Homo sapiens: one gene and its partner. The protein of the gene in region 1 interacts with the protein of each later gene in a biochemical or structural test. Each region holds a gene or a part of one and is shown in the gene's direction. Other genes may lie near its edges.

Evidence for each region. The genes of interacting proteins can lie anywhere in the genome.
Region 2: the proteins of MELK (region 1) and BCL2L14 form a complex in vitro, tested with the Homo sapiens proteins (one study listed by IntAct).

The regions. Positions count from the first base shown.
Region 1 is NC_000009.12:36,570,510-36,574,255, forward strand, and holds the start of MELK (maternal embryonic leucine zipper kinase), read left to right. Parts: upstream 1-2,385; 5' UTR 2,386-2,498; exon of another isoform or gene 2,499-2,689; intron 2,690-3,746. UniProt on the Homo sapiens protein: Serine/threonine-protein kinase involved in various processes such as cell cycle regulation, self-renewal of stem cells, apoptosis and splicing regulation. Has a broad substrate specificity; phosphorylates BCL2L14, CDC25B, MAP3K5/ASK1 and ZNF622.
Region 2 is NC_000012.12:12,069,117-12,072,862, forward strand, and holds the start of BCL2L14 (apoptosis facilitator Bcl-2-like protein 14), read left to right. Parts: upstream 1-1,822; 5' UTR 1,823-2,021; intron 2,022-2,286; exon of another isoform or gene 2,287-2,539; intron 2,540-3,746. UniProt on the Homo sapiens protein: Plays a role in apoptosis.

The DNA.
Region 1 (3,746 bases):
TGGCCGGGCACGGTGGCTCACGCCTGTAATCCCAGCACTTTGGGAGGCCAAGGCAGGCGGATCATGAGGTCAGGAGATCAAGACCATCCTGGCTAACATGGTGAAACCCCATCTCTACTAAAAATACAAAAAAATTAGCCGGGCATGGTGGTGGGCGCCTGTAGTCCCAGCTACTCAGGAGGCTGAGGCAGGAGAATGGCGTGAACCCAGGAGGCGGAGCTTGCAGTGAGCCGAGACCACGCCACTGCACTCCAGCCTGGGTGACAGAGTGAGACTCCATCTCCAAAAAAAAAAAAAAGAACATTTATGATTAATGGGAAGAGGTCACCATATCAACATTAACAGGAGTTGGGAAGAAATTAATTCCAACCCTCATGGATGACTTTGAGGGGTTCAAGACTTCACTCGTGGAAGTAACTGCAGATTTGGTGGAAACAGCAAGAGAACTAGAATTGGAAGTGAAGCCTGAATATGTGACTGAACTGCTGCAATCTCATGATCCAACTTGAATAGATGGGGAGTTTCTTCTTACGGATGAGCAAAGAGAGAGTGCTTTCTTGAGATGGAAGCTCCTCTTGGTGAAGATGCTGTGATCATTGCTGAAATAACAACAAAAGATTTAGAATATTCCATAAACTTTGTTGATAAGGCAGTGGCAAGATTTCAGAGAACTAACTTTGAAGGAAGTCCTGCTGTGGATGAAATGGTATCACACAGCATCACATGCTACAGAGAAATCTTTCATGAAAGGAAGTGTCCATCGATGCAGCATTGTTGTTTTATTTTAGGAAATTGCCACAGCCATCCCAACGTTTAGCAACCACCACCCTGATCAATCAGCAGCATGGAGGCAAGACCCTCCACCAGCAAAAAGATTATGATTTGCTGAAGATTCAGATGACCATGTTAAATTAAGTTTAGCATAAAGCTGCCTCCTTATGCATTTTAAGTTCAGACTAACAATTTATTTCTTTCTCTCTCTCCCTTTCTCTCCCTTCCTTTCCTTTCCCTTCCCTTCCCTTCCCCTCCCTTCCCCTCCCTTCCCCTTCCCTTCCCCTTCTCTTCCTTTCTTTCTTTTCTCTCTCTCTTTCTCTCTTTCTCTTTTTTTGAGACGGAGTCTTGCTCTGTTGCCCAGCCTGGAGTGCAGTGGCACGATCTCTACTCACTGCAACCTCTGCCTCCCAGCAGAGAGAATCAAGAGATTCTCCTGCCTCTACCTCCTGAGTAGCTGGGATTATAGGCTCGCGCCACCAAGCCCGGCTAATTTTTTGTATTTTTAGTAGAGACAGGGTTTCATCATGTTGGTCAGGCTGGTCTCGAACTCCTGACCCCAAATGATCTGCCCCCGCCCCCCCACCAAAGTGCTGGGATTATAGATGTGAGCCTTTGCACCTGGCCTAACAGTTTCTCCATACATAGTGAATTGTAGACAACTACAATTGTAAATGTGTAAAGAGACTGTAACCTTGTAACAAGTAGCGAGTCTCAGTCAATCACAGCAGCGGAGTTTTGGCCAATCACAGGTGGCCAACTGTTTAAACAGTGCTCAAAATAGTCAGAGGTTGAGTTGCAACCAATCCAGCTGTTTCCATACTTGACTGCAATTTCTGTAAGTCATTTTCCTTTTTCTGTCCATAAATGTTATTTGAACATATGGCAGCCCGAATCACTCTGAACCTATTTTGGTTCCAGGGATTACTGGATTTTGGACTCATTCTTTGGTCAATTCAACTCTGTAAAGTTTAATTTGTCTAAAGATTTTCTGGGCCGGATACAGTGGCTCACGCCTGTAATCCCAGCACTTTGGGAGGCTGAGGCGGGAGGATCGCTTGAGCCCAGGAGTTCGAGACCAGCCTGGCCAACATAGCGAGATCCCGTCTCTACCCACAAATAATTTAGCCAGGCGTGGTGGCGCGTGCCTGTAGTCTCAGCTACTGGGGTTCTTATTCCTCGTGGCAACACATTTTGGAGAGGGGGAGGTATTCCTGTCTTTGCTGGGTGGGAGAACGGCCAGTGGGCAAGGGAGGACGAAAATGAGAACTGTGACTGCCAGAGGGCACGTCAATTTTAGGAAGAGAACGTAAGAAAGTTGGGTTCTGTGGAGACTTGGCATATCCACGCCACCTGGAAAATCATCACGTGCCCTCCGGGGCAAGACCAAGGCCTCAAGTCACCCCTCGCAGCCCAGTGGACCTCCCGGCCATCCCTTTCACGGCTCCACAGCGACCGCGAGCCGTTGCCCCGGTGAGAACCCCCCGGCACTGTGCGCGCCCCCGCCTGCCGTGCGCGTCCGCTTCCCTGGGATCCGGCGCCGCGCGCGCCCCCGCCGCGTCCCCGCCCCTTCCGGCCCGGGAGATTTGATTCCCTTGGCGGGCGGAAGCGGCCACAACCCGGCGATCGAAAAGATTCTTAGGAACGCCGTACCAGCCGCGTCTCTCAGGACAGCAGGCCCCTGTCCTTCTGTCGGGCGCCGCTCAGCCGTGCCCTCCGCCCCTCAGGTCAGTTCTCCCGCCTGCCCGCCGCAGTCGCAGTTGATGGCTGGGGTCTGGGCTGTGCGGGGCGCAGCGGCCCAAACCCAGTTTGCTCCTGGCTCTCGGGAGACTGGAGGATTTCATCGGAGCCCCGCGCTTTACCAGCCCTGTTCCCTGGATAAGATATTTGACCTTTCCGACCCGCGGTTTTCTTCTCCGTAAGTGGGGATAATGACCGTGTCTACTTAACAGGGTTATTGAAGAGGTGTTCAGGCTAAGCGTTTGCCACCTAGGAGGCTGCGATAGACGTGAATTCCCATTTCCCGTTTCCAGTTTCCGTGACTCTTCCCCGCGAAAAAAGTTGACAGAAGGGTTTCGAGTTTTTTCTGTTTGTACAACTCAGTTTACTGGGGCAGTGCAATAAAAAAGGAGATGTGTTATCACTACCTTTTCAGAGTCCAAATCCATCCTCTCCTATCATCTCCCCAGAGTAGTGGCTTCAGAGGCTCACACTAAAAGGGGAATTTTTTTTCTTTTTCTTCAAGACGGAGTTTCGCTCTTGTTGCCCAGGCTGGAGTGCAATGGCGCGATCTCGGCTCACCGCAACCTCCGCCTCCCAAGTTCAAGCGATTCTTCTGCCTCAGCCTCCCGAGTAGCTGAGCTTACAGACATCCGCCACCACGCCCGGCTCATTTTTTGTATTTTTAGTAGAGACGGGGTTTCACCACGTTGGCCAGGCTGGTCTCCAGCTCGTGTCCTCAGGTGATCCGCCCGCCTTGGCCTCCCAGAGTGCTGGGATTACAGGCGTGAGCCACCACGCCCGGCCTAAAAGGGGAATTTTCACCGAATGCTGTATCAGTAATAGGAGCAGCAGGATTGCTCCCACCAAGAAACCTGGTGTAGGGTTGTGGGAGCTGGAAAGGGTAGACTCAGGGAAGGCTGCCCAAGAGAGGAATCAGGTCCCTAGCACTTAGGACGGGTAATTACCTTTGGTATTTCTCCTTTGTTAGTGGAATGAGGTGAGTATCAGGAGCCTGGATTGTTGTTTAGAGGCCAGTGTTCCTAACTTTGGTTTAAATTTTGGTTTCTGTTTCCCATGGAGTCTGGCTAGAAAATCAGAAAAATCAGAAAAGCCCTTACTGGGCCTTCGTGGGCTTGTTTCTCCCAAGGGTCTGTCCTTTCTGTGTAACTACTGTGGACCAACTAGATGGGCAGATCAATCCCAATGAGTGCCTCATTGTTGGTGCTCCCAGAAGCCTTTGCAAGGGAGCAGGG
Region 2 (3,746 bases), on another chromosome or scaffold:
GCTTTCATCGCATCTTGGTTTTGATAGATTTGGGCTGCTGCTTTACTACATGTCATTTTATCAGTGGTGTCTTTGTGACCTGTACCTTGCAAACCAGTCCTGAAGAACTCTTGTCTCATCACTGTGTTGTCCAGGCTGGTCTTCAAGTGATCCTCCTGGCTTCAGAGTGATCCTCTCACCTCAGCATCCCAAAATGCTGGGCTTGCAGGCTTGAGACACTGAGCCAGACCCTGTTTATTCTTGAATTGTTTCCAGTGAATATATCTCATCGTCTCCCCCCAAAAAAAGGTTGCAAGTTTTTGGCCAGGCGCGGTGGCTCACGCCTGTAATCCCAGCACTTTGGGAGGTGGAGGCGGGCAGATCGGGAGGTCAGGAGATCGAGGCCATCCTGGCTAACACGGTGAAACCCCGTCTCTACTAAAAATACAAAAAAAAAAAAAAATTATCCAGGCTTGGTGGCGGGCGCCTGTAGTCCCAGCTACTTGGGAGGCTGAGGCAGGAGAATGGCGTGAACCCAGGAGGTGGAGCTTGCAGTGAGCCAAGATCGCACCACTGCACTCCAGCCTGGGCGACAGAGCAAGACTCCGTCTCAAAAAAAAAAAAAAAAAGGTGGCAAGTTTTTATAAAAAGAGAAAAATCATTCTTAGTATTTCTTTAATACCCTCTACATTGACCTCACTGGTGCAAAAAATATTAGTTTGCTGGTGAAAATTCACCTCGAGTTACTAAATATCTAACTTTCCCATAACTACCATCTGTTTGTCTCTTGTGGATCTGTTTGCCTAATATTTAAATGACCCATTCTTCCCCACTTTTACGAAAATAGCATTAATTCCCCTTTCACTATTCACACTTCCTTCATCGTCACAGTTTGACCAGCGGTCCAGGGTTTATGATCTCAAGCATGGCCATATATATCTATTTCACTTAAGACTCTGGAAAGAGCATAAAATCAGATGTAACTGTTTCCTATTTCATATAATAGGGAATTCCATCTCTAAAGTTATGACATTTGGCCTTTCAGTGGGTTTTTGTGGTTTTTACTATGGCTGTGCTTAGATTCCTTTTTGAACACTTTTCCAGTGGTTCCACTTGAACACAATCTTTGAGTCACATAGGAGAGGTGACATGATAGAGTGTAAAGCCAGAAAGAGCACGATTTGGATCTCAGCTCAACTGATAGGGATCCGTAGCAAGATACTTCACCTCTCTGAGCCTCAGTTTCCTCATCTGTGCAATGGGAATCGTAACGCCTGCCTCTCAATGTTGTTAAGATTAAATATGTTGGCCGGGCGCAGTGGCTTACGCCTGTAATCCCAGCACTTTGGGAGGCCGAGGAGGGCAGACCACCTGAGGCCAGGAGTTCGAGACCAACATGGTGAAACCCCTGTCTCTACTAAAAATACAAAAATTAGCCAGGCGTGCTGGTGCAAGCCTGTAATCCCAGAAACTCAGGAGGCTGAGATATGAGAATCGCTTGAACCCAGGAGGCGGAGGTTGCAGTGCGCCAAGATCGCACCACTGCACTCCAGCCTGGGCAACAGAGTGAAACTCTGTCTCAAAAAAAAAAAAAAGATTAAATATGTGTACAGTACCTGTACCATGTTAGGCGGTCAGTAAACATTTGTTTAACTAACAACTGATAAGGATAGTAAAGAAGTATCAGAACACCCACCTAGTTATCCCAAAGGGCAGGAAGAGTGCTAGGTAATGGATATAGAATTCCTTTTAGAGTCAAATTACACGGGCAAAGATCAGCCCCTCCTTCAATTAAAAAGCCAGGGGCAGGGCGTAATAAGGAAGTGGTTCTCCTTCTTTAAGCCTCTTTTCAGGCTGAGTCCTAAACCTGAAGAAAGTTTAGAGCCTGGGGCTCTAAACTACCTGAGTCTTTCCAAACGACAAGCCAAGAAGACCTGTTGAAAGTTTCCTCTTAAGTTTCGTGGAGAGAGACTCAGGTATAGAAATATCCTTACTGCCACCTGACCTGAAGCAGAAGAAATCACAGACAGCTTCCAGACCAGGTAACACCAGGAGGCACCAGTCTTCATCCTCAGCCTTTGCAGGAGGACACAGCCTGGTCTTTAGCTGTTTGCCAAATGAGGCAGTCTAATTCAGGGAGCTCTTTACTGGGTTTATTACAAAGTTCTTATCATGTAAGTCTCAGGACACAAAATGACATTGAGAATCTAGTTTAGCGGGGTTTCCAGGAAAGACGAAGAAAGGTTATTTAGGTTTCTCTTTCATTTCTCTTTTGCTACAAAGGGTTTGGGACATTCAGTTAAGAACACATTACTGGTTGAGGTATGTGACGTTACTCAGTCTTCTCTGCTTATGTATCTGGGGAGGTATGCAATGACATGACAGCCATTCCGTGGCCAGGGACACCACTGCCCAAGCTGGAGACCACGAGGATTCAGGGACTGAAGCCAGCATGGGAATTCCTGGTTTGAGATCAGAGTCCTGAGTACCTCGTGGGAACTTGGGCACTCATCCGCAGGAGGTCTAGACCCCCAGAGAATTCCTTGAGTCTAAGGCACAGGTAAATGGAAGACCCTTCTCTCTCCTCTCTCCCCTCTAGAAAGCTCCCTCCTCCCTGAGCTCCCTGTCCCCTTCTTTCCACAATCAGAGCCTCGGACCTTCTGTTTGGTGAATATGACCTGAGGCTCTGTCTAGCATTCAGCTTCTATTGTGGGAAGTTAAGGCACTTTCTCTCATTCCTCATTTCACCTTTAGTATTAAAGAACAGTCCAGGCAGAAGGCACGAAGAGCCTGAGAGGTCTGAAGTGAGGGGGAGAGGAGAGGGGCAGAAGGGGAGGCTCCGGACAACAGAACCAAGCTGAGCTTAGGATGTGCTGTGGGAGGCTCCGTGGGGATGAGTGTCAGTGCCCACGAGATCCACTCAGGCCTCAACTGTGTGTCCTGAGCACATGAAGTCAGCTCTTCTGCTGGGACAGCCACCAAGGGATTCTCCACACCCCTCACCGCTGGGACAGGCAGAGGCACAGCGAACCAGGTGTCCAGCGTAACTGGGGCACTGGGTGGTGGCCGCCTCTGTGTGTGGAAACACGAGGTGCTTGCTGCAGTTTCCTCTGTGTGCTTATCCGTTAGCTGCCACCCACCGGGAGGGAAGTGAAATCTCACCTCAACAAGTGAGTCCGCAGAGCGAGAACCGTGCGACAGTGCGTCTGCCAATACCTGGAATGTAGGTGTTCGTTGCAGTGTGGCCTTCCCAGCCGGCCTCTCAGCACACCCGGCCAGGCAGCCAGTGTTCCCAGAGGACACGCTGGGGCCAGACGTGGAGGACCCCGGCCACCTCGGGGAGGGAAAGAGACCAAGAAAAGAACCTCTGTAGCCTTGCTTCTGAGAGTGCAGGTTTGTTACAGGTAAGGATCAGGAAGGTAAACATAGGGCAGTGAAGCAGGGTTGTGTCCTCTGCGGCCCTGAATTAGAATAAGCCTCACAGGTCTCACCCAGGAACGGAAATCTCCCCTCCAGGTTCTGAACCAGCATTCAGAGGCCCCACCCAGGGCTTCTGTCAACATAAGCATAAAACTTATGGTTTACCTTTCCATAAACCCCAAAGTTGGGCTTCTTGTATAGAGTACAATTTCTGTAGGAAGAGCTGAAAGCAGAAGGGATCTAACCTGTGATAATACTCGATCGCTGCTGCTTGAAAGTAAGACTTAGCTATACACTGAACAATCAAGTAATTTATAACAAGGATTAGAGGAAACAAAAACTCTGTG